4 linked regions of the Homo sapiens genome follow. The protein of the gene in region 3 interacts with the protein of the main gene of each other region in a pairwise test. Each region holds a gene or a part of one and is shown on either strand. Other genes may lie near its edges.

The links.
Region 1: the proteins of SRSF11 (region 3) and HYI interact in binary tests that used the Homo sapiens proteins (3 or more experiments, as listed by UniProt).
Region 2: the proteins of SRSF11 (region 3) and TANK interact in binary tests that used the Homo sapiens proteins (3 or more experiments, as listed by UniProt).
Region 4: the proteins of SRSF11 (region 3) and SRRM4 interact in binary tests that used the Homo sapiens proteins (3 or more experiments, as listed by UniProt).

Annotation. Positions count from the first base shown.
Region 1 is NC_000001.11:43,450,929-43,458,618, forward strand, and holds HYI (putative hydroxypyruvate isomerase), read right to left. Parts: upstream 3,004-7,690; 5' UTR 2,866-3,003; coding exon 2,667-2,865; exon of another isoform or gene 2,570-2,666; coding exon 2,458-2,569; exon of another isoform or gene 2,077-2,457; coding exon of another isoform or gene 1,975-2,076; exon of another isoform or gene 1,392-1,974; coding exon 1,277-1,391; exon of another isoform or gene 1,086-1,276; coding exon 1,007-1,085; exon of another isoform or gene 920-1,006; coding exon 870-919; exon of another isoform or gene 790-869; coding exon 720-789; exon of another isoform or gene 617-719; coding exon 482-616; exon of another isoform or gene 384-481; coding exon 310-383; 3' UTR 144-309; coding exon of another isoform or gene 91-143; 3' UTR 61-90; downstream 1-60. UniProt on the Homo sapiens protein: Catalyzes the reversible isomerization between hydroxypyruvate and 2-hydroxy-3-oxopropanoate (also termed tartronate semialdehyde).
Region 2 is NC_000002.12:161,226,399-161,233,432, forward strand, and holds part of TANK (TRAF family member-associated NF-kappa-B activator), read left to right. Parts: intron 1-4,572; coding exon 4,573-5,153; intron 5,154-7,034.
Region 3 is NC_000001.11:70,231,379-70,238,412, reverse strand, and holds part of SRSF11 (serine/arginine-rich splicing factor 11), read right to left. Parts: exon of another isoform or gene 6,303-7,034; coding exon of another isoform or gene 6,146-6,302; coding exon 6,036-6,145; intron 3,718-6,035; coding exon 3,625-3,717; intron 2,913-3,624; coding exon 2,863-2,912; intron 989-2,862; coding exon 861-988; intron 1-860. UniProt on the Homo sapiens protein: May function in pre-mRNA splicing.
Region 4 is NC_000012.12:119,159,521-119,163,565, reverse strand, and holds the end of SRRM4 (serine/arginine repetitive matrix protein 4), read right to left. Parts: 3' UTR 515-4,045; downstream 1-514. UniProt on the Homo sapiens protein: Splicing factor specifically required for neural cell differentiation.

The sequences.
Region 1 (7,690 bases), about 27 Mb from region 3:
GACACCTGGGTTCCAATCCCAGCTCTGCCTTTGAAGCACTTGTGGCCACCGTCAAGTCCCTTTGCTCTCGGACCCTGGGTTTCTCATCCTTTAATGAGGTGGGTTCAGAAGCTCTCCCATCTTCACAGCAACCCTGGCACTGGCTTCTCAATGGGAGGGAAGCAGCAGAGAAACTGAAGTGTTAGACACTATGTGTCCCACCACCCCATTACAGAGACATATGACAATGTTCAGCAGGTCATCTTTAATGCAGAGGAGGAGATGGGATGTCACTCGCTGTCTGGAGGCACGTGGGTGGTGTGCGGGCCCTCACTGGCCAGCCTCTGGGTGGCCCCGCCTATCCCAGTATGAACGTAGCCAACTCAAGCCCTCTACTGTGTCTCCTGCAGGGAGAGGGAGGCCTCGGCACCTCAGCCCACAAGGAGAAAACAGCCCCTGTCCGGGTCCCTCCAGAGCTCCCTTCCCCAGGGCCACGCCTCACCTCGAGGCTGATACTCACAGCCCACGAAGCCTTTGTAGCCTTCATCTTCCAGCAGTTGAAACAGATAGGGGAAATTCAGCTCTCCGGGGCTGCTGGGCTCCCCTCGGCCTGGGACCTGTGCCACCTGCACATGCCCTGGGGACAGATGTGGACAAATGTGGGGTCCAGGCTCCTGCCAGGGCCTGAAGGACAGATGTGGGGATTGAAAGGGTGGGAGGGCAAAGGAAGGTCCTCTCACCAACAATGGGCAGGAACTCCCGGATGTTTCCTGTCAGGTTCCCATCCATGATCTGCCAGTGGAATATGTCCTAGGGAAGAGGATACTACATTCCGAGACCCCGCAGGCCCCGCCCTCCTTCCGATCTGCGAAGTACCCCCTTCCACTTACCATTTGTAATTGGAGGTTGGGTCTTCCTACCTTCTGTAAGATGGCTGCCGCTGTAAGAGAAGCCAGGGAGGGGACCGTGAGCCTCAAGAGCACAGGAATCAAAAGGGACAGAAGGAGAGACAGGGCTGGGGTCGTACCCTGCTGGGGCGTGTCCAGGAAGTACTGGGGGTCAGTGATGCGGGTGTTGATGGGCTCCAGCAGTCCCACGAGGTCCTCCTAGCAGCATGTCGGGTGCTGTGAATAGAGCTCCTTCCCAAGTTTGTCCCCCATCAGTCAGTCACTGGTCAAGGCCCTCACCTGTTCCTCTGACCTAGGCTGGCAGCCTCACGTGCTGTCCCCACTGTGCACCCCCTTCTCCGCACACCCACAGAGACATGTAAGTACGTGTGTGTTTCCACCTTTCTCACCTGAGCCAAAACCCCAGCTGCATGCCTCAGGTTCTCCAGAAAAACGGCCTCCATCTCAGCCTTGACTGCTATTCGATCAGCTCCCTGGGGTACTCGGCCAGCCATCAGGTGGATCCTGTGGGGAAGATGGACTGGAGGCCTTGCCTCCCTTGGCTCTCTCTGCACCTCTTCCAGGATTCCCTGACTGTGCCAGCCCTCGTCCGTCTCCCCAGGTCTCCAGTCCATGGCACCTGGGTCACGATGCCCAGGTATCCCAGCACTTTCAGAGACACTTCAGTGATGGCTGAGGGGCAAGCCCTTTCCCAGACATCTCAGTGTCCACCCACCGCCTCCTGCCTCCAGTACTTTCCAAAACCTTTCCTTCCCTCGGTCCTTCTCCGCAACCTGTAACCTGCTAAATTCTCACCTTTAAAAATTGTCCTGACCTTTGCTTGCCCTTCTCAGGTATTCCATGCTGCTGTCTCTACTTCCTCTCCTCGCATCTACTTAGCCTTTTCCCATCTGTTTTCTGCCCCCACCATTGACCAGTAGTGATCCCCTCTTGCCAGTTCCTTCTGAGCCTGTTTGGCCTCTGCAGGATTTGACATTTGAATCAGCCCCACTTTGAGCCGTCCACCTCCTCCCATCATCCCCTGATCTTAGCCACATCCAGCTCCAAGCAGACATTCCAGGCCTCCCCATCCCAACAGGCTACATACATGTCCAGCCTCAGGAACGCTGCCAAATACACCAGGCCTCCTCTTGCCACAGCACCCTTGCAAGGAACACTCAACTTCCTGCCCATCAAGCAATGCCCACTCCTTGAAGACAGTCCAAGCATCACTACCTGTAAGCAGCTTTCTCTGATCCAGACAGGGTTAGGTGCCTACCCTGCTCCCACAGCTTCCTGGAATAGGCCTGTCCTCAAATGCATCACTGTATATATTTACTCTCCTATCTGCCTAGGCAGACTGAGCTCCCAGCATGGGATCCCAGCATGGGGTGAGCATGAAAGAGTGGCAAACAGAGTGGCATAAGACAGATAAAATACAAAAGGCAATTTACAAAGGACCAGGACCGCAGAGGCAGAGATAAACCAGTGGGCTCAGACTTCTGAGCGTCTCAGATCTGGCGTCCTCGACTCCCTGAACCTGCATCAGGGTCATGGGTCACAGGGGTGGGGGTGGGGTGGAGCGGGGTACCTGGGACAGCCCAGGGCTTTGGCATACCGCACGGCCTGCTCCAGTCCCTCTCGGAAGGCCGCCTGTCTCCCGGGGACGGCCCCCAGCCCCATTTCCCCCTTCTCTTGGTCTCCTGCAGAGAGAACGGGCCTCAGCCCCCGGCTCGGACACTCCCCTGCCCGCGCCCCGGCACCCCCCAGCCCTCCCAGCCCTCCCGGCCCGCGACGCACCCGGGGGCGTGTTGATCAGTACAAGCCGCAGCCCCGCTTCTCGCGCGGCGCGCGCCAGCGCCTCAGGCGTCTCCGCGTACGGCCAGGCCACCTCGACGGCCTCGAAGCCCGAGCTGCCCGCGGCCCGCACCCGCGCGGGGAGGCCGGAGAGCTCGGGGAATAGCCAGGACAGATTGGCGGAGAAGCGCAGCGGCGCCATGCCTGGGGAGGCCGGGCCGGGCGGAGTCCGCGGGATCCAAAGGCGGCGGGCGGCGGGCGGCGGGCGGCGGGCGGGGGCGGGGCTCTCCTTGCTGGCCCTGCGAACGAACGAGCACTGTTCGTGGTTAGAAAAGCGAAGTGCTGTAAAAACCCGGGCCTTCACGAAAAGCGCCTACGGTTAGCGAGAGAGGGATCACGGGGAGAGGCGAAGGGGCGGAGCGAGGGCGGCCGGAAAAGGAGCAGGACCCGCGCCTGGAGAAGGTAGGGAGGCCGAGCTCCAGGGCCTGAGAGCCGGACGCGAAGCAAGAGAGAGCTGGCTGCCCGAGGGCCCGGTTGCAATGATGGGACGCGCACTTTAATACTGAGTCTTTCCTCTGATTATAAAAATGCTATCTGTTCGTTAAGCAACATTTGAAAGCTGTATGACCAAATAAAGAAGCACTTTTATACCGCCAGTTATCACACCACTAGCCTGTTGGCTTTCCCGTCCAAATTTTAAAATATGCAATTTTTTTCTTTGGAAATTCTGATCATTCGGTATATGCTGTTTTATAGCTCTTTTTCATGGAATATTATTTTGTGAGCATTTCCTCGTGTTTTCCAATAGCCTTCAAAGTCAGTGCCTTCGCTGCTCATTGTCGCACACCTAAGCAGCAAGTCATTATTGTACTTTGTGGTTGGATATCGTGTGTGTGCACGCGCGCTGCAAGCGCACTTTCAGGCACTTCTTAGTCCCTATCTCTGACTCTTTTCCGAGTCTTTTTCTAGAGATGTCCATCACAGTGTTTGCCCGTTCACGCCGCTAGTCTTTTGCAAGGGAAACCGCCCCATTGGAGCAGCTATGGGTGAGCTGTCCCTTTTTAGCCTTAGCCTCAGCTGATTGGACCAGGGAGGTCATCTGATCCCAGGGCAGCCAATCCATAGACTGGCCAAAAACCTCTTACTTGCGTCGTTTGGAAAGGTAATTTAACCAATCAAGAGTTCAAACAAGGAAATGCTGAGAGTCAACAGGTGGTGTTGCCAGAAGGTGACTGGGCTGTAGAAACGAAATAAGACAGTCCTATGGTAAAGAAAAGCTAGAGCGGAAAGGAGGGGAACCAAGTCCTGTGAATAGAGGTAGCACCCTGAGAAACCCATGTCATCCCAAGGGTGCCCAAACCCATAGCTGCCCCCAGGTCTGTGCACTTAAGGCTGGGATGCTTAGACTTTCCTGGGTTTCTGTCTCTGTATAGCCTCTTAATGTTTCTTGAGATAATTTGAATGATTTTACTTTCATCTACAATAACCCAACTGATTGGGCAGGTTCTTATGGGTAGAATTACATGGTCAAAAATAGGAACATATTTAAGTTGTTGATATCTTAAATTTCCTTTGAAAAATATAAATTTATATCCCAACAATTCATGAGTAAACGTCATCTTGATCTATCGTCTGTGCTAACTTTGACAGAGAAGCTTAAAGTGCAACATTAGGAACACCCAGCTCCCACTGATTGTTCTGTCAACACTCAACTCCATCTCAAATGAGGCCAGCTCAGACACCAGGGATCCAGCCTGATCCCGTGGTGAACCCAAATTCTTGGCAGGTTCTGTTTCTTCAGCTCTGCCTCCAAGAACAGACTGCTGCCAGCTGACACTGATCACCTGATTTCATGCTCTTTTGCAGCTGGTTTTACACTAGGACCTTTGCCTTGTCTTGGAACGTGTTTCTCGTCCAATCAAGACCTCACTAAGCTTAACATTGTAATCAGTCCCAACTTTAGTGTGTTTGCAATCCAAAATTGACAACAAAGAGTAACATCTAGAGGAAGTAATTCCTTTATTACCACCTCACTGTTGATCTCCGAGTATGCAAATTCTATTTATGATGTTGACAGCTGCTGAGCTCTGCGTCAGAAACAAAATGTGTCCAACTCCCGATTGTCCACCCCTTTTTTCCTTGGACATGCCTTAGGGCAGTAAAGATTATACATAAACTAGACATAGGTGACTCACTTTCCCCTTAATTCCCTTACAACACCTTCCACCTTCACATAATATGCTCAAATAAATATATAAGGAGTGCAATGTCCATGAAAATTATTTGCTTTATTCACCTTTGACTATGTCTTATCCCACCTTGCAACACAGGCATGACACTAAGTTATCACAAGTTTTGATTCTTTGCATTTGCCTTTTTTTTTTGCTTTATTGTGCACACTTCACAGGTACGTATTTGACTTTTAACCAAATAATTTGCACAGGTGTGATTTTAAAGTAACAACAACTTGTAAATAGTTGCATGGATAATGGCAAAAACTTTAGTACAGAGTTCAGAGTCTCATTTGATCATTGGATAACATTTGGCAATGCAGTAAAACATATTACAACTCATGTGAAATGCAAATCAAAACCTCAATGAAATTCTATTTTATGCCTTCCACATTGGCAAAAATAAAAAACACATTATCAAATATTGGATAGGATTTGGAACAACTGCCAACAGGAGTGTAAATCACTATAACCTCCTTGGAAAACAATTTGGCATTGTCTCTTAAAGCTAATATGCCTATGATCTGACAGTTCCTTTCCCAGGTGTATCCCCTGAAGAAAGTTTTGCACAAGTGTACCAGGAAAGAAGTAAAGTGATGTTCACAGCAGAACTATTTATGTAGCAAAAAGATGGGACTAACCCAAATGTCCATCCATCCATACATAGATGAGTTGTGTAATAGTATAGTCATACCATGTTGTACAAGAGAAAGCTGGTGGCTCAAATGATAACACTGAGTTTGTTCCTGTGTTAGGACAATATATGAAGAGCTTAGTGAAGTTTGATTGGAACTGAAAAACATCAGTATGAAAGCATCAAGTGGATAAATCTCAGAAACATAATCTCTAGAGGAACAAGCAAATCACAGAGAAATACCTACAGTGTGATTCCATTGATATAAAGTCAAAGGCAGGGAAAACCAACAGTATCTTGTGTAGGAATATGGACATCTCTGATAAAACAATGAAGAACAAGTGAATAATTATCACAAAATTCAGCATAATGGTGACCACCTCTAGAGGAGGACAGAAGAGGGTAGCATTGGAGCCTTCTCTTACGTTGGATAGCACATTCATGTATGTTAATTTTACTACTCTTCTTTAGAGCTAACATATATTTTATAAATATCATTTTTTATCTGTCTTATATTTAATAAAAACACATTTTTAAAACCTGTATGCATTACTGCCATCTGTTAGCACATTTGATATTAACATCCTCATTGTGGTATCACTATAATCTCAAGATTTTTCTACAGGTTCAGCTTGTTTGTGTTGTTTGTCTGGTTTGAATTCTAATGATCACTTTTTAGACTCAACTTGTCACTGCTCAGCACAGTGGTCTTTTATTGTATTATCTGTCCAGAACCTGTGGCAGGTAGCGTGTAAAATGGTCCCCAATGGGTCAGAGGGGGTGGCTCACACCTGTAATCCCAGCACTTTGGGAGGCTGAGGCAGGAGGATAACTTGAGCCCAGGAGTTTCAGACCAGCCTTAGCAACCTGGTGAAACCCCATCTCGACAAAAATATAAAAATTGGCCAGGCGTTGTGGCATGTGCGTAGCCCCAGCTACTCCAGAGGCTGAGGTGGGAAGATCACTTGAGTCTGGGGGAGGTCAAGGCTGCAGTGAGCTGTGATTGCACCACTGCACTCCAGCCTGGGTGACAGAGCAAAACCCTGTCACAAGAAACAATAAATAAAATAAAATAAAATAAAATAATAAAATAACCGTTAGCAAGATTAACCAAGAAGAGCGAAAATCCAAATAACCTCACTAAGAAACGAAACAGGAAATATTACAACTGACACCACAGAAATACAAAAGATCATTCAAGGCAACTATGAACATCTTTATGCACATAAACTAGAAAACCTAGAAGAAGTGGATAAATTCCTGGAAAAATACAACCCTCCTAGCTTAAATCAGGAAGAATTAGATACCCTGAAGAGACCAATAACAAGCAGCAAGATTGAAATGGTAATTTAAAAATTATCAACAAAATAAAGTCCAGGACCAGACGGATTCACAGCAGAATTCTACCGGACATTCAAAGAATTGGTGCCAATCCTTTTGACACTATTCCACAAGACAGAGAAAGAAGGAACCCTCCCTAATTCATTCTATGAAGGCAGCATCACCCTAATACCAAAACCAGGAAAGGACACAACTAAAAAAGAATACAGACCAATATCCTTGATGAACATAGATGCAAAATCCTTAACAAAATACTAGCTAACCGAATCCAACAACATATCAAAAAAATAATCCACCACAATCAAGTGGGTTTCATTCCAGGGATGCAGGGATGGTTTAACACATGTAAGTCAATAAATGTGATACACCACCTAAACAAGAATTAAAAACAAAAATCACATGATCATCTCAATAGATGCAGAAAAAGCATTCAACAAAATCCAGCATCCCTTTATGATTAAAACCCTCAGCAAAATCGGCATACAAGGGACATACTTTCATGTAATAAAGGCCATCAATGACAAACCCACAGCCAACATAATACTGAATGGGGAAAAGTTGAAAGCATTCCCTCTGAGAACGGAAACGAGACAAGGCTGCCCACTCTCACCACTCCTCTTCAACATGGTACTGGAAGTCCGAGCCAGAGCAGTCAGACAAGAGAAAGAAATAAAGGGCATCCACATCGGTAAAGAGGAAGTCAGACTGTCCCTGTTTGCTAACAATATGATTGTTTATCTTGAAAACCCTAAGGACTCCTCCAGAAAGCTCCTAGAACTGATTATTCAGCAAAGTTTCTGGATACAAGATTCATGTACACA
Region 2 (7,034 bases), on a different chromosome or scaffold from region 3:
CAAAGAGAAACCAAAATAAATATTATACTCTGACAGTGGTATATCAAAAGGAGAAAGGAAAAAATATTTTTTGAAAAGATGCCTATTCAGGGTTTCCAAGTATGTATGCTACACTGTATAAAAATATAGAAGAACTATTTTGAATATGATTTGCACAATATATCTGGGAAGAGTACGTGTATTGTCCCTATGTTATTTTGTATTAAAATTTGATTTTTACTTTTAAATAACCAGATATGATTCATTTGAAAATACTGAGTTAGTAGAATTCTACATTTCCTATTTATTATTACTTTGTTTTTTCTACTCATCTACATATGGCAGTAGACTTAAGAAATGATAAAGATAAAATGTATGTTTATCCATAGCTTCAAATAAAGTACTGTTTGGTTCATAAAGGAGTGTCCAATTTCAGTAGAGATTGGGAAGGAAGAATATAGGATTAAGGGTAACAAACATCCATGAGAAGGGTAATAAACAACCATGAGGTCTTTTTCTTTTGTCAATATACAACGTGATTATACTGAGAAGTAACTAAATGGATAGCCTGTATTTAAAACTGGGAAATCTAAAAATATTTCCCATTTTACTTTTTCCTTGCAAAGCTAAGTAGTCTTAAAATAGACAAAATAGAAAAGCTATTTGCTCACCTGATCATGTTTCTCAATATGGTGTCAGGATGACAAGTGCTTTCATGCATCTCATTTGAGTTTTAAGTTGTCTCAGCTTAGATTTCTAGTAGCATTAGGAATGTAAGGTTTAAATTTTTTTAATAGATATTAACTCTCACTGCTTGAGCAGATTAACTCAGATTATTTTAATGTGGCTGAGTTTTATGCCAGCTAGCTTTGCTGAAAGAAAATATCTGTTTTTTTAGAGCTGTTTGATTTCTCCTCGTTTTGTTCACAGCGGGGATAGATCAACTGCTAGAAAAATAATTCAAAGCACATTTCTGTCAATTTGGGGACTTCTCTCTATATATAGAAACCAACATGTTCAATTTAGCCTAATGGTTCAGAGCACAAATCTACAGTTAGGTTGCCTGGGTTCCAGTGGCAGATCTACCACTTACTATAATAGTTGTGTGGCCTTTGAATTAACCTCTCCAACCAGTTTCTTCACATGTAAAGTGGGGATAATAATAGTGCCTGCCTCAGGATTACTTTGAGTATTATATGAATTAATGTACATACAATTATTATAATAGTACATGCCATGTGGAAGTGCTATTAATGTTAATAGTCATTTCCATTAGCAGCAGCAGCAGCAGATTCTCCAGCATTCACCTTGTTCTCCTTGTGAAGATCATTTGATAAGTCTCTCCTCTTCGGGTGTTACAGAATCTGATTACCTCAACAGTTGGTTTTCCTGATTTGTTATTTGCAAGTAGCAAATGTCATCTACAAAGACAGTACTGTTTCCTAGACTTTCCTACCACTTTCAAGTCTACTGCCAGGGAAAATGACTACTCGAGAGTTAATGGACTTTAAGAACCTCAGAGGCTAAAGAAATCCAGATAAACAATTAAGCTTGGTGACAATTACTATAGCACTCCTAGTCATAGAGTATCTGGTAAATGTTGATTATTATAGTAGGCTTTGTAGGGGAGAGATTACAGATTCATTCAGAATTCATTTGTTAGGGGCATACTATGTGCCAGACACTGGGCAAGGGTCTGGAGTTAGAAGGAAACAAAACAGTTTAAGACCTCAAAAAACCTACTTTAGTGGGAAGAAACAGAGTTATACTTGGAAATACAGTCATGTGCCAAATGACATTTTCAGTCAACAACAGATTGCATATACAATGATGGCCCCATAAGATTATAATGGTACTTAAAAGTTCATATCAGCCCAGGCACAGTGGCTCATGCCTGTAATACCAGCACTTTGGGAGGCTGAGCTGGGCAGATCACCTGAGGTTGGGAGTTCGAGACCACCCTGACCAACATGGAGAAACCCCGTCTCTACTAAAAATACAAAATTAGCCGGGCGTGGTGACGCATGCCCGTAATCCCAGCTACTCGGGAGGCTGAGGCAGGAGAATCACTTGAACCTGGGAGGCAGAGGTTGCGGTGAGCCAAGATCATGCCATTGCACTCTATCCAGCCTGGGCAACAAGAGCGAAGCTCGGTCTCAAAAAAAAAAAAGTTAATATCACCCTAGTGACATTGTAGGTAGCTGTTGTTACATTGTAGCACATTTTGTTTTTTTTGTAAATTTAGTGTAACCTAAGTGTATAGTGTTCATAAAGTCTACAGTGATGTACAGTAATATCCTAGGCCTTCACATTCACTCACCATTAACTCACTGACTCACCCAGAGCAACCTCCGGTCCTGCAAATTCCATTCACGGTAAGTGCTCTATACAGGCATACCCATTTTTTATCTTTTATGCCATATTTTTACTGTACCTTTTCAGTGTTTAAATACACACATACCATTGTGTTACCTGCAGTATTCAGTACAGTAACATGTTGTATAGGTTTGTAGCCTAAGAACAATAGGCTATACCATATAATGTAGGTGTGTAGTAGACTATACTGTCTAGCTTTCTGTAAGTACACTCTATGATGTTTGCACAATGACAAAATTGCCTAAGACTGCATTTCTCAAAATGTTCCGTCGTTAAGTGACACATAACTATATAACAGTGTGTTTCAGTTCTCAGGGCATCCAAGAGTCATGGGAGAGTCATCCAGAGAAACTTATGTCCAAGCCAAGATATGAAGGACAAATAAGAGTTGGGCAAAGAGTAATGGGAGGGGACACTTCAGGCAGTCTGCACAGCAGGTGCAAAGGTGCAAAGACAAGAGAGTGTAGCTATTTTGGAGAACTATACAAAGTTCATTATAGCCAGAGTATGGAGTGAAAGATGAGCATGGAGAGATGACCAGGGGCCAGTCATGAACAGTCTAATAAGCCTTTTCTGAGATCTGAGGGGCTTGTAGAGCCATCAAAAGATTTTATTAGGAAGGTAACTTGGTCAGATTAGTATTTTAGAAAAACTACTCTGAGAATGAAGGGATGGAGGGGAAGTTGCAGTGAAGAGAACAGATTGGATATGAGACAAATTCAGAGGCAAGGAAGCAGTTTAAAGGCTGTTATAATAATCCAATAAGAAAGGATGGTATGAAGAGAGGTATAAAGAGAGGCAGTAGGTATATAACAAAATGAACCAAAGAAGTTGGTTGCATTTTACTACACATACCCAAACAGAAAAAAATATATTGGAATGTGCTGTGGCAAAAGACAGAGAGGTGTCATGAGACTGCCAAGACCAAAGGAATATAAAGGAACTGACATTTGTTAAGTGCCTACTAACCTGTACAGATACTTTGTATACCTTGTGTTCTGTATACCCTGTCTACCTAGATTTGCATCATTGGTAATGTCTCCATTTGTGAATGTTCAACAGTGCTGATGACAATCCTTAAAATACATACATTACCAACTTCAGTGCCTTCTTTAAGGGACATTGTGGAGCTTAATTTGGCTTTTTCTAGTGTCTCAGAATCATCAACATGGAGAGTACTTTGATGATTGTTTTTTTGTATTGAGCACTCATTGGCCCTATACTAGACTGTAGTGTTTTCTAAGTTCTTATATCAGCTTCTTTGTCTTTCTTATCTCTTCCTATGCTTTTAGCTCTTGTTGATATCTATGTCTGCCTTTAGCAACTCATACTCCCTTTTAATTTGCTGTTTCAAACCAGCTATGAGCTGTGGAAATACCACCAAGTTTGTTAGAATAAATCTAAAATGACAATAGGAACAAAATTCATCTATCTATGAACCTTGTGGCTCTAATTCTGGCTCCTCAGAAGCTCTGTTTTCTTTCTAGCTTTTGACTGTGTCCTACAAAGCTGAATTTGTTGGATAAGTGGTTCTAGATAAATGAGCTACAGAGGCCCTTTTGTCTACCAGATATTTACCTGTTTTTTACAGAGGTCTTTTTTAAAAAAAGATATAAGATGATAAAATAATCTATTCATCCACAGTTTTCTTAACATGCATCACAATATTTCATCCTTCCTTTGCCTTCACTGTCTTCTTTTTCCCAACTCCTGCAACCACCAGTCCCTCACATGGATTATTGAGAGCAGACAGTGGCTAAACTGATTAGTGATATACTTAGTTAGACAGTGACATTAATAATAAATGACCTAATTTTAGATATACCTAGTAAGATTTTCCCTTTTAACAACTTATTTGTCTAAGCAAACTCACAGTTATAGCTTCCGTTACTGACAAAATGTTTAAATGTATACACTACAAGCAAATGTTTTTCAAGTGTGGAGCAGTGTAACTGTGAACAAGATGCAAAGCTTACGGCAGAAGACTTAGGAAAAGACAAAGTAGTTAAATTGCGACTAATAAGCTATGTTTCAGTTCACCCGCTGGAGACTGCTAATATTCTGTGTAAGATGGTAGCAAATTTTAAAATCCCAGTTGTCTTCATTTGCTATAAAAACCAATAGAAAAAATAATAATAATCTCTCCAAAGCTGATTGAACAGATTTTTTTAATGATTTGAATGCGGCTGTTTCTCTTTTGTGTTCTTCTCCCTCCAGAAACACAGTGCTCTGTGCCTATACAGTGTACGGATAAAACAGATAAACAAGAAGCGCTGTTTAAGCCTCAGGCTAAAGATGATATAAATAGAGGTGCACCATCCATCACATCTGTCACACCAAGAGGACTGTGCAGAGATGAGGAAGACACCTCTTTTGAATCACTTTCTAAATTCAATGTCAAGTTTCCACCTATGGACAATGACTCAACTTTCTTACATAGCACTCCAGAGAGACCCGGCATCCTTAGTCCTGCCACGTCTGAGGCAGTGTGCCAAGAGAAATTTAATATGGAGTTCAGAGACAACCCAGGGAACTTTGTTAAAACAGAAGAAACTTTATTTGAAATTCAGGGAATTGACCCCATAGCTTCAGCTATACAAAACCTTAAAACAACTGACAAAACAAAGCCCTCAAATCTCGTAAACACTTGTATCAGGACAACTCTGGATAGAGCTGCGTGTTTGCCACCTGGAGACCATAATGCATTATATGTAAATAGCTTCCCACTTCTGGACCCATCTGATGCACCTTTTCCCTCACTCGATTCCCCGGGAAAAGCAATCCGAGGACCACAGCAGGTAACTGTTTTGCATTAACAAATATATTATTATGTGTGAACACACATTTTGCCATACATGCACAGATATGCATCTCTTTTACGTTATCAAACATCCTTTTTAAACTACTGACAGCCAAAGTTAAGGCTTTCAAAAAAACAAGTCCCATAATAAATGACATGAAATTAGAAAAGCTGAATATGGTAAAACTTTATTGGAAAGTACCTTAGAATTTATGTCAGATTTAAAAATACATGTTAAGCCTTATCCATATCTGTCGTGGTGTCACTTTCTTAGTTCCTTATTCAAAGCTTGTTTACTCAGGATTAATAAGAATATTAAATTTCATAGTGTGAAACAAATGCTGTTTTATTTAATAGTTTGTGTATATCATATTCATCTTTATAAGAATTCAAGATCTTTCATAAGTAAATAATTGCATCTTACATTTCTATTTATCAAAATAAGTGAACTATCTTTCAGTGAATACTTCTACTACATCTTCAGTTATATAGTACACAGATCTGTAGGGTTTAGTTTGGTTTTGGTTGCTAATCTGGAAATGAACATGTAGCCTAGTATATTTTTTAAATAGTCTCTGCATGTGTATGATATCAAATATTTTATTTAATGTTTCTAAAGCTCACAGACTAATATCCCCCAAACCACTCCTGCCCTCCCTTTTAGATTCAAATTCTATCACAGAATGATTCTTTTAGTTAAAAAAAAGTTTAATGTCTGAAAGCAAATGAAAACTATATAATTTTTACAAAAAACAGAAGCTTATGAAAATACAGATTGATGTAAATGTCTATGTAACTTGCAAACATTTGTCTGATTTCTCTTTGCCTTGAGATATTTAATTTTTTTAAAAAAGTTATTAATACCCTTTTGCTTTAAGTACACATATAGGTTATAGACTTAAATCAGCACGCAAAGAAGGCAGTTGTCAAGCTGTGGTATATTTTAGTAGTGGGAAGAACTAGGCATGGCTGACAATAAGTTTTAATTATAACCTCACTTATGTTCTTGTTCATTGTACTTTATTTCACATCATAGTCTCAGTTATAGTTGCTACTAAATGAAACAAATTAAACAATTTCATTTATTGCAAGTAGAATTCCTGTGGAGCTGTGAAGTGCATCAGTTCTAATGCTTGTTACTTTTTTCTCTATTATATGTCTTGCTTGTTCTTTTACTAGTCTGTGCATTCATGTTTCAGTAGATGGCACCCTGCATTGTACATTTGCTTTCTATACTACAGCAAGGGAAACAGCTGGTATGTGATTACAACTTGATGGAAAAGTATTCAGCTTAAAAAATTCAGGAGAATTAGTGTTGAGTTGTCACAAGACATGGGGCATAAGGTTAGATAATTGATATTTTGGCAGAAAAAGCAAAGAAATTAGTTTGTTTTGAAGACCATGTTACAGTTTAGGATGGAAAGAATATTTCTTAAAATGAGTTTTTTAAAAAAAACCTTTTAAGCTATTTTATTAGTATTAATAAAGCTAGTATTATGCAAGCTAGTATAAGTACAAAGCTAGTATAAGTACAAAATTCCTGAGTTGGGCCAGGTACGGTGGTTCATGCCTATAATCCCAGCACTTTGGGAGGCTGAGGCAGGAGGATTGATTAAGCCTAGGAATTTGAGACCAGCCTGGGCAACATAGTAAGACCTTGTCTCTACAAATACGTATAGTTATATAGATATATGTAGCTGGGTGTGGTGGCTTGTGCCTGTGGCCTCCAGCTACTTGGGAAGCTGAGGTGGGAGGATTGCTTGAGCTAGGTAGTTCGAGGTTGCAGTGAGCTGTGATGGTGCCATCACACTCCAGCCTGGGTGACAGAGCAAGACCCTGTCTCAAAATAATAATAATAATTTTTTTTTTAAAAAAATCC
Region 3 (7,034 bases):
AATGTCATTATAATAAATTCATAAAAATATTGGTAAAAACATCAGTTCATAAAGAAACTACATTCAGTCACTTTAATCATATATTTTCAATATAAACAGCAGTTAGAACACGGTGTGTCATAAACTTTACATACACCCGGCTGTGCTATCTAAAAGTTCCTACTGCTTGCCATGTAACTGTGGCTAATTATTTGACATTTTCCTGGTTAAATAACATAATACATATAAAGCATTTGGTATCAGTTTATCCACTATTATACTTTAAAATTATTTTCCTAACAATAGGCACATTAAAAAACATTCCCATTTATTAATGAACAAGATATTTATAAGAAAGAAAATCCAGGGCCATAGATCTAAATATATATGGGCAGATAATATGATATCTATTCATTTACTCTCAAAAAGACAATCTGCAAAGAAGACAACTAATTTTCTTTAAAGAAATATCATTTTAAACAGAAGCATTTTCACTAGGTTCTCTTGATCAATGAAAAAAATTAAAATTAGGCTATCCCAACTTAGAAAAACATAAATAATAAGAAAAACAAAATATCGTTTCAAGTATTAGATAATCCTACTGACATTTTGGACTAGATTAACCACTGCTGTGGAAGGCTGTGCTGTTTGTTGCAGGATATCTAGCAACATGTTGGTCCTTTGCCCTCTAGATGCAGTTGGTACTCCTGTGACCACCAGAATTGTCTCCAAATACGTCTGAGTGGCACTCCACTATACAATCTTTTATCAGAGTTTACAACATTTTAAACGACTAGGGTGTCACTCAACACAATTCCACATTTATGTCAAAATCATTTTTGCTAAGAATCACACAACAAAATTGCATAAACATTGTTTACCTGGTTCTATAGCAGCAGAAATTAGGGACTGTGCTTCTCGTACTCTTTTCATAGCTTCCTCTATTTCTTTACTAGAGGTATCCGATTTCAGACTTGGTGAAACGAGACCAGCAGCTACATGATTCAACCTGAAACAGAACCAAGAAATGGGATCTGAAATATTTTAAAATGCACACGAGCATTTCAAATAAATACTTAAGTATATAACATTATTTTAGCAAAATATTCCTTCAAAAAAAGGGAGGGGAGGACTCCATGATAACTTTGGTAAACAACATATAGCATAGCACTGTTTTGAATATTTACAAGTATTTGTTTTAATGACTAAGAGTCATCTGGAATTAGAAAAATACCTATTTTGCTGAACATCCATTAACTTTCCATAAACAAACACATTTTTAGAAATGCCAGTACAAGAAAATATGCTGATGCTAAGAACTTTTATTCATATAAATTAAAAATTTTTGGGCCGGTGTGGTGGCTCACGCCTGTAATCCCAGCCCCTTGGGAGGCCAAGGCAGGTGGATCACGAGGTCAGGAGATCGAGATCATACTGGCTAACACGGTGAAATCCCATCTCTACTCAAAATACAAAAAACTAGCCAGGCATGGTGGCAGGCGCCTGTAGTCCCAGCTATTCGGGAGGCTGAGACAGCAGAATTGCTTGAACCCGGGAGGCAGACATCGCGCCACTGCACTCCAGCCTGGGCGACAGAGTGAGATTTCGTCTCAAAAAAAAAAAAAAAAAAAAAAAAAAAAATTTATGACATAGTAATTTTTTGGGGAAGAGCATTACCTTTTACTTTGTAGGTGGGGAGGAACTGAGGCAGAGGCCAAAGGCCTACCAAAATTACACATGAAGTCTTGAGTGGAAAGGCTAAAGATGCCCCTTACAGGTTTACACATGTAAAAAAAAAATTGTAGGCCGGGCATGGTGGCTCATGCCTGTAAGCCCAGCACTTTGGGAAGCCTTGGCGGGTGGATCATGAGGTCAGGAGATTGAGGCCATCCTGGCTAACACGGTGAAACCCCGTCTCTACTAAAAGTACAAAAAATTAGCCGGATGTGGTGGCTTGTGCCCATAGTCCCAGCTACTTGGGAGGCTAAGGCAAAAGAATTGCTTGAATCTGGGAGGCGGAGGTTGCAGTGAGCTGAGTTTGCGCCACTGCACTCCAGGTTGGGCAACAGAGTGAGACTCGTCTCAAAAAAAAAAAAAAAAAGAAAAAGAAAGAAGAAAGAAAAAAAAATTATAGACAACAAATTTAGTAGTTATTTGTGGGCAGAACAGGAAATGTAATAAATAATGGGTATATAGGAAGCTTCAACTGTATTGGTATTATTTTATTTTATAAGCTGGGTGATGGGTACATGCTTGGTTTTATTTTTAGATAATTTCTAAGAAAAAAGTCCACTAACTACTGAAGTCCAACGATTCTGTCCTTTTCATGCTCTCTCACTTACTGATAGTGACTTTCACCAAGTTAAGGGGAAAAGGTATAAAGTTCAAATTTATTATGCCAACAAATAACCAGTGAAAAAAACTGATGAATCTGTCACATCATCAAGTCGGAAACAATTTCTGTGACAGCATGAAGAGCACTTATCAAAAGCACCTAAAATAAAATGTTGGCTATTAATTATATAATATGTAATACTACTTTGCTCTGGGATAGTGATTCCCTCAGCTTTGCCTCTAACTCCTACTATCCTCAGGACTCAGCCTCTGATCTTCAAACGAAGTTGTCCCTTATTAGCTCTTTTGCTATCATCCAGGTATAAGTCATTTACAATTACTATTCAAGACTCAAATGACACTGAAACAAAATAGTTTAGAGGACCTTACTTACTTCTGTATTTCTCTCCTTGTTTCTAGGTAACAATACATATTGCTTGTCTTGAGAAAAGATAACTTGATAACTTTCTTATAAGCTATCAAAAAAACTCTAATTCTGTAGACATTCAGATACCACATCACCAATGAAAACAAAGAAAAAACGCTTACTTGGGATCAACAGTACTCATAAGCTTCAGCAACTGATCTGCAGCAAGAGACTGTAAAAATAAAACATAAGAATAATGAGAATACATAAAACAATAAATGACCGATATTTTCTAGGCAGAAAACTGAACAACAGAAATCCATGCAGACTACATGCCATGAAACATAAATTTTTTAGTAGCCACATTAAAAAAGAAAAAACAAAAACAAAAAACAAAACAAAACAAAACAAAAACCGGTGACATCAGTAGCTACAGTATTGGATAGAGCAGCTTTAGCAAGTTATCTAAAGATTATGAGGCTGAACAGTCTAGGTATTATAGAATTATGTCTCCTTTAAGACTTTTTGACATAAAGAAACATGTAAAACTCAAAACACCTTAGCCAATATAATGCAAAAGACCTCTACAAAGAACTTCAGAAAAAAAGGTTAGCTAAATTAAAATAAAAGAAAAATTTCCATGATAGAAAAATTATAAACCACATTCTTATCTTTTCATGACTATTTACTCTGACTCTATGACACACTGATAATGTACTGGCTTCTTGTGAATCTATTTTCTATTTTGAACTATATAAAAGAAATCCATTAATGGATAAAGGAGTTAGTCATTCAGTGACTGTTTAAAGCTCTGACAAGTTTAAACAAGAAAAAAAATTACTACAACATAGCCATTAGCTTCTGCTCTTGAAATGCAAACCAACAGTTAATGAAACAGATCTTCTGTAAAAATGGGTGAAAAATTTGAAGTTACTAAGGTATACCTGAGAGTTCAAGTTTGCTCCAGGAAGCCCAAGTGCAGCAAGGGCAGGATCAAGAGTAGGAGCCCCCAAAGCAGCCAGTGGAACAGCGCCAATCTGTGAAATGGCAAATTTTATTTATTTAAAACTTCATTTCAGTTCCTTATACCAGGGGTTAATACTTTTTTAATGTAAAGGGTCAGATAACAACTTGAGTTTTCAGGCTACATGGTCTCCGTACAACTCCTCAGTTGTACACAAACCATATAACTACTGCCATCATAGCTTGAAAGCAGCCAGAGACGATACCTAAACAAATGGCTGTGGTCCAATAACAATCTATTAACAGAAATAGGAGTCTTGCTCTATATGACACCCATGTTCCACCCATTACAACACATTTCCCCCCTAAATCCTAGATTAAGAAAAAAAGACAAAATATTTCAACATATTCTTGTGCTGATTTTAATTATTTATTGCTTCTCAGGATCCAAATCTACTATTCTTTGCCCTGCTGTTTTGTGCTACCGGAGGCAGGACCTTTACAAAGCATTTCTCCTTTGACAGTTGCCATGATATAAGACTTCATTTGGAAAGAGTGCTGGAAGGACACTGACTAAGAAAGGGGCTCTTCCTGGTTGCTGTGTCCCCTTTCTGATTATTCCTGCAGCACCATGTCAAACACCCAGTAGCCCTCGCCTCTCAGTAAGTTTTAATACCAACTCCTTATGCAGCTCCCCAGGGCACCCAAGAGAACTTATTTACTAGTCACCCTTCCAAAAACAAATCTAAGTTTCAGCATAGATGGGGAAAGAGGAGTCCCCTGAACTAAATGGGTGTTCCTTCTGCTTCAGCCTCAGAGGTAGTGGTTGTTTCTTATACTTGTGATTCCTGTATTCATTAGAGTTCCCCTAGTAATCTCCTATAACTAGTTAGTAATTCCTTAAATGTTCCCTGTTCAAATCACTGCAGGGTTCTGCCACCTGCTTGACACCAATTCTGATTAATCCATAATGTAATAGACACAAACCATGAAAGTGAGGCTACTTTAAAACCATCTGTAGCTTTTGAAACAGCCTCACTTTCTCCACCTGTGCTACAAGTTCTCCTTGTTTCAATTTATTTAGTAAACACAAACTATCAAACTTTCTATAATTTAACTGTTTATTCGTAACAGGCAAAATGCTGTGTTAATACTATTTTAACTTACTGTCCAACATAGCTATTGCATAGCTTTATACATTAAAGGAATTTAGAAAATTACCCAGATCTGGACTGGGCGCGGTGGCTCACGCCTGTAATCCCAGCACTTTGGGAGGCCAAGGTGGGCAGATCACTTGAGGCCAAGAGTTCAAGACCAGCCTGGCCAACATGGTGAAACCCCATCCCTACTAAAAATACAAAAATTAGTCAGGCATGGTGGCATGCCTGTAGTCCTAGCTATTCGGGAGGCTGGGGCAGAATCGCTTGAACCAGGGAGGTGGAGACTGCGGTGAGCCGAGACTGTGCTATTGCACTCCGGCCTGGGTGACAGGGCGAGACTCTGTCCATCTCAAAAAAACAAAAACAAACAAAACAAAAAACAAACAAAAAAAAACAAAACAAAACAGAACAAAGAATAAAGAAAATTACTCAGATCCTCATTTTATAGGTTAAAAGAAATAACCTAGGAGTTAAGTGATAAAAGTCACACCTAAAAAGCTTAGGAACTCCTAATCTTTCATTCTATAGTGCACTTCACAGTTAAGAGTCAATTAGTCAATTATTTAGACAGGCAAAATGATACACTAGAAAGAATGCTTTTATAAATTTCCAGTTGAGGCTCATTCACTACAATCTTTGAAACTACTGACCAGTTACAATCTCAGTAATTAGAATACACAGTATTTAAAGTGCCTTTTAGTTCTAAAATAAGCTTCGTACAGCACTGTCAGTGTTAGAAACACTATTGCAACCAATTTTCTTTCACATTCCCATATCAAACATCTCCATCAAGAATTGCCTTTGTTTTCAAGCCACCTATGTAATTCAAAACCCCCCAAATAACAGGAAAAGATAAAGGGGAAGGAAAAAAAAATGAAGGGCTCACTTGTGAAATTTTAACTTCAGTTTTCTTTCCTGGTCCAAATGAATATATTTTTAACAGTGTGTTCAGAGAAGTGTTCATGCCTCAGGAGACTGTTCCAAAACTACTCATGGGTTATTTTGAGAGCCAATGGTAAAAGTGACAGAACAGATATTTTATGATTTTTCAGAATGTTCTTAAAATACAAAAGTCTAAGAGATCTTCTATACTATTTGTGATTTTGATATAGACATGTGATAATGCTATCTGAACTAGAATCTTATGAGTACTTACAAAGTTCAAATATGTTTAGCTTTATGCACAATTCTGTTTTTTTCCCCACCCTTTAAGAATTCAATAGAACTAGTACCTGGGTAAGTGGGTTAGGAGTAGGCAGGAGTCCACCACCAGGCAGAAGACCTGCCACTGCATTAGCTGGTGCCAACAGAGACAAAGCTTTAGCTTCATCAGGAATAACTCCTGCAGAGAAACATCCTTGCATTAGAACACATTCTTTTCTAAGACAGAAAACACACAAAAACACCCAGAAAATGTCTCCCTGATACACCACCTGAGTTTGTTGAAAGTACTTATGTTCGCTAAAATACAAAGCTTGATTTCTATGATTATTTATCATTAATTTTATGTCAGAATGAACTTCAATGTGTGAAAATTTGTTTCCTTTTTCTCTACAAATGGTTAAGTTTCTAGAGTAAAAAAAAATAGCACAATACACACTACTTTTTTGTTAACACTGCCAAGATTTCATCACCTGTACTCGATTTTTAAGTCATGAACCAAACGTAAGCAAGCACAGTCGGTTCTCCAGGGGTGTGCTCTCAACTTTCAAAAGCTGTTTTATGAACAACGACTCGTGTCGGCTGCTTCACTATAAAGCACACAGAAAAATCAAGATACACAAGACAAAAAAAGTTTGATTTAGGGGTTAATAATATGGTACAGTTACTATGATTTTCTTTTACACCTACCATACAAATTTTGTAAAAATTAAGAGAAGAAAGTATGTAAAGGAAATATTCTGTTGGAATCAAGCGTAGGGCTTTTGCTGACTCATGAAAATGAATATGAATGTTTCTGAAGGTCTCTGAATACACACAGGATGTGTGCATGGGAGTGAGAGAGAAAGAGAGATAGGTAAAACAACATGGCACATTCCTTACCTGTACAGTAAAATGCTTTATGTTTCGCCATGTGCCATGCTAACCATACCAAAAAATGCTGCCATACAGTGCCAGTTGAAAAGCTAACTTAGCCAAACTCCTTAAGCCAAAAATGACATATATATCTGTTTTTAAAGCCTAATCTGTGTATTCAGATAAAATCTAAGGGTCCTAAAACAAATATTTAT
Region 4 (4,045 bases), on a different chromosome or scaffold from region 3:
GTTTCACCACATTGGCCAGGCTGGTCTCAAACTCCTGACCTCAGGTAATCTGCCCACCTCAGCCTCCCAAAGTGCTGGGATTACAGGCGTGAGCCACTGTGCCTGGGTGACTTTACTTTTCTAAGACTCAGTTTCCTTATTTGTAAGAAGAAGTTCCTAATACCTACTTCATAGGGTTGGTTGTTGCTGAATACTAAGATAACACATATAAAATGCTTCCAAAAAGGTTGCCTAAGGCACTCCATAGCTGCTACTAACACACACACACACACACACACACACACATATATATATATATATATATAACATGTATATATTTGGTATATATGCTGTATATATAACCAAAAACCCAAAATACATACAGGTTTGTTTGGAAGATTAAAGATGTGAGCTGAGTAGTGTGAACATGTATGACACGCAGCAGGTGCTACTTAAGTCTTCTCTAGCTCCTTGTTTCCCTCCCCATTTTTTAATTCTGAGTACCCCATATAAACAGAGAACACTGAGCCATATATGAGAACACCATACCATGGGAACTTTAATTAGAACAGAGACATGTTTCGTACAGGCTGAAAAACCAGAAACCCCGGGAAGGTTATGCTTAGCTTTGGAGACCAGAAATCAAGCTAGCCATGGCTGCTGTGTCACTGGGCAGAGGACAGGGTCCCAGGATGCTGGAGGACACAGCAGCTTCTTTCCATCTGATGTGAATGCTCCAGGCAGAGGCTGTCTGGTCAGGCTGAGCTGGGCTCATGGTGGGTCCTCGGGTTGGGAATTTTCCAGAGGAGATTCGCAGCCTCCAATGCAGAGAAATGGCCTTGGGGTGCACCACGTCCCCTTGGCCAATGTGGTGGATTATGCTAGGTCCTTGGCCAATCATTGCTTGAGGAAATAGCTAAGAATTGGGAGAAAAAAAAATACAGTGCAGAGAGAAGTTCTTATAGCACAGGACCCCGGAGAAAAAGCTACCAAGGGAATGTTGGACATTGAGTCAAGCTGATCTGAGCTCAAGGGAGCTTGGGCATGTCAACTCCCCCTCCTGAGCCTCAGTTTTCTCCTCTGAAAAGTGGCAATATGACCTATGTCACTGGGTTATTTGAATGATTGTACAAAAATATAGCCTGACAATGAACAATGGTTAAATCCAGAGCAGGGCAAGGTAAGCCCATCTTGGTCTCTCCCGTGATGACTTTGGACCACGGGGCTTAGAGAGAAGTTCAAACTAAATACAGAGGGCTTTAACCCAGGATACAAGAGTTATCAAGGTGACAGCAACTTGAGGTCTCCCATATATGACTGTGGGACTCAACGACTATGACCTCATTCTGCAAATGAAGTCCAGGCCCTACTTTTTTGTTTCCTTCCTTGGTTGACACCCTTTAATCTGCAGTCAGCAGAAGACACAAGAGACAATATATCCAACAGTATGGAGTCCATAGCATCAGGGCTTGAGCCCCCATTTCCCACGTCTTGCAGATAATATATAGGACAAGCCCCATTTTACAGATGACAAGACTGAGGCTAGAGACCCATTCCATTTCATTCAGACTGATACACAGGCCAAAGAAACACATAGGAATACCATTGCAGTCTTTTTGGCTTGGCTCGTTAGAAGATGAGGCATAGCTTTCCTTGGCCAGAAAAAAAAAAGAGTTTACAATTTTTCTTTATTTTTTTTTTCAAGGAGTTGTGACTTTTTAATAGAAGTTGGTTCATGTGTAGGCATTTTATTCTTCCATTAATTTCCATCTAAATGAGGTTTTCCTGGAGATAACCAGTGTTTTAGTTCCATTTGAGTCTAATTTGTGTGACTGAAGCCTCCATTTCTGCCAATTTCAATTTGCTTGGTGATTCTAGCACTCCTTACCTGGGCAGTAATGCCCTTGCTGCAGACAGCAGCACCTGGAGCTGGGAGATGGACCAATTCTCAATAGCAATTCAGGGAAAGAGGTGGTCCTTCTCTTTTCCCAATATTACTCAATAAATACGAAATAAATTATTAAATAAGCCATGTTCTGATGGGGGTCCCCCATCATGGTATTTACAATGCAAAACAACAGCCATCAAAAGAACTAAAAAAACACACACAGAAACTTTTACTCCAAAAACAGCAACCACAGATAGAAGAGAGATGACATTTCTGTCAGTATCATTGGCTCACTGGTGCAGAAGTGAGAAGAACGAGACTTCAATAAAGCATTGCTCAATGACATTGAATCTAGCATAAGTTTCTCAGCTGGACTCGGCTGGCCAGTGCGGGAGGAGGCATGTTTGGAGGAATCCTGTTTTTTGACTTCGTTTTACTGAGACAAAATTTTCTGTTCAGCTAAAGGGGAAAGTGGGGCAAGACACATGCGCATGAGACCATTTTGAACATTTGTGAAAAAGAAGAGGGGAAAAGAAAACAGCAGAAGAAAAGATGAAAGTTGGACTGGAGAAGGAAAACAATGTGCTTTCTTTGCCTTTGAGAGCACCCTGAATTTTGGCCTCTCCAAGCAGACCCTTTTGCAAAAGAGGATGGGTCTGAGCAAATGAAGTGATGCGGTTCTCTGAGACTGAGACCTTTGTTCTAACATCTTAATTTTATTCTGCTTCTGAAAGATCAGCTGTCCTTCAAAGAAGGGAAGGAATGCAGATAGGAATATGATCAAACCTCAGTGAACCAGAATGTTACTAATAGGGGGCTTTGAGTTACTTAGCCTTGCCTAATTAACTGAAGGGAGATCAAATCTTGCTTTTCGTTTTTACTTTCATGATGGACAACCTCCTAAAAATGTTTGAGGCTCTTTTCCTTTTCCCTCTGAGTCTCAGTGAAGCTCCCTCTGTCTTTGGTGACACTCTCAGGCCTCAGGCCAACATTTTGAATTTTTATCTCACAAATCCCTCCACTTAACAGAGGTCGAACTTTGCCCTAGGGAAAGGGAGCAATGTATTCAGTTTCTGTCATCCAGTGCACTTCCATAGCGGGAAGGTCAAAGGCTTGGGATGCATGGCGCTTGACCTCAAGCCACATCTCCCTCCCATTTTGGATGTTGGTTTTTGAGATAAATCCTCACGACGAGCAGCATCCTGGTGATCTGTCATATTCCTTGGAAGCAGAAGGTAATGAGGGTGAAATGGGCGTAGGAACAGCGATACTGGGAATGGGAGGTTCTGGTTAATCAGGGTTACCAGTGCCTCAACAAGCACATTGTTTTTGGATAGAAAAAAAGGAAATGTAAAAGAAAGTAGAGAAATACACTGAGAGAGAGAGAGAGAGAGAGAGAGAGAGAGAGACAGAGAGAGAGACAGAGAGAGAGACAGAGAGAGAGAGAGGCAGAGATTTCCCCGAAGCAGGCATTTAAGCAGCCTTCTTGTAAACTTCACCCAGGAAAGGGGCACTCCCTTGCTTTGGGTTAGGGCTGGATAGTCACATTGCCAGGGAAACAACCAGGGATGTTGCAAAAGTCTCACCAAACCCAAAGCTGGACCAGACAAGCTGGCAATTGCAAGGCAGTGGACAGTGACTTTGGAAAGGGCAAGAGCTGTCTCCGGCCAGCAGCCAGAAGACACTGCCAGTTGGTCAGATAAGCAGGACTGATGACCTTTGGATCCTGGGCCCTTCCAGGATGGGTTTGGAAATGACCTTCTTGGTGGGGTCCTGTGGAACATCTGGCTGCTCCTTCCACCTTTTTTTTTTTTTTCCTAATTTCAGAAATAGCTTTGTGCTTTCCCCTGATGAAACAGCAAGAGATCATAGATAAAAGCTTTTGCTTTTGGCTTGGTGGTTCTCAAGCAAGATGGCTGATGCCTCTTCCCAAGGTAGCCTTCAGATCTCAGGGGACAGAGAGAAATTAGGTACTGTGGAGTGGAAGCATGTGTAACATACATGAAACCAACTAGGTGTGCTCAGAGAAGCTAGGGAGTGATCCTGCTATGTGCCTTGGAGTGAGGGTGAGATCAAGGTGCATCTTCCCTCAGTCAGCTCAATTCCTGCCTCCATTCTCATGGTGTGAGCACCTTGTCAACCCCAAGTGCAATTCCAGTACTAAACCAGACATCATTT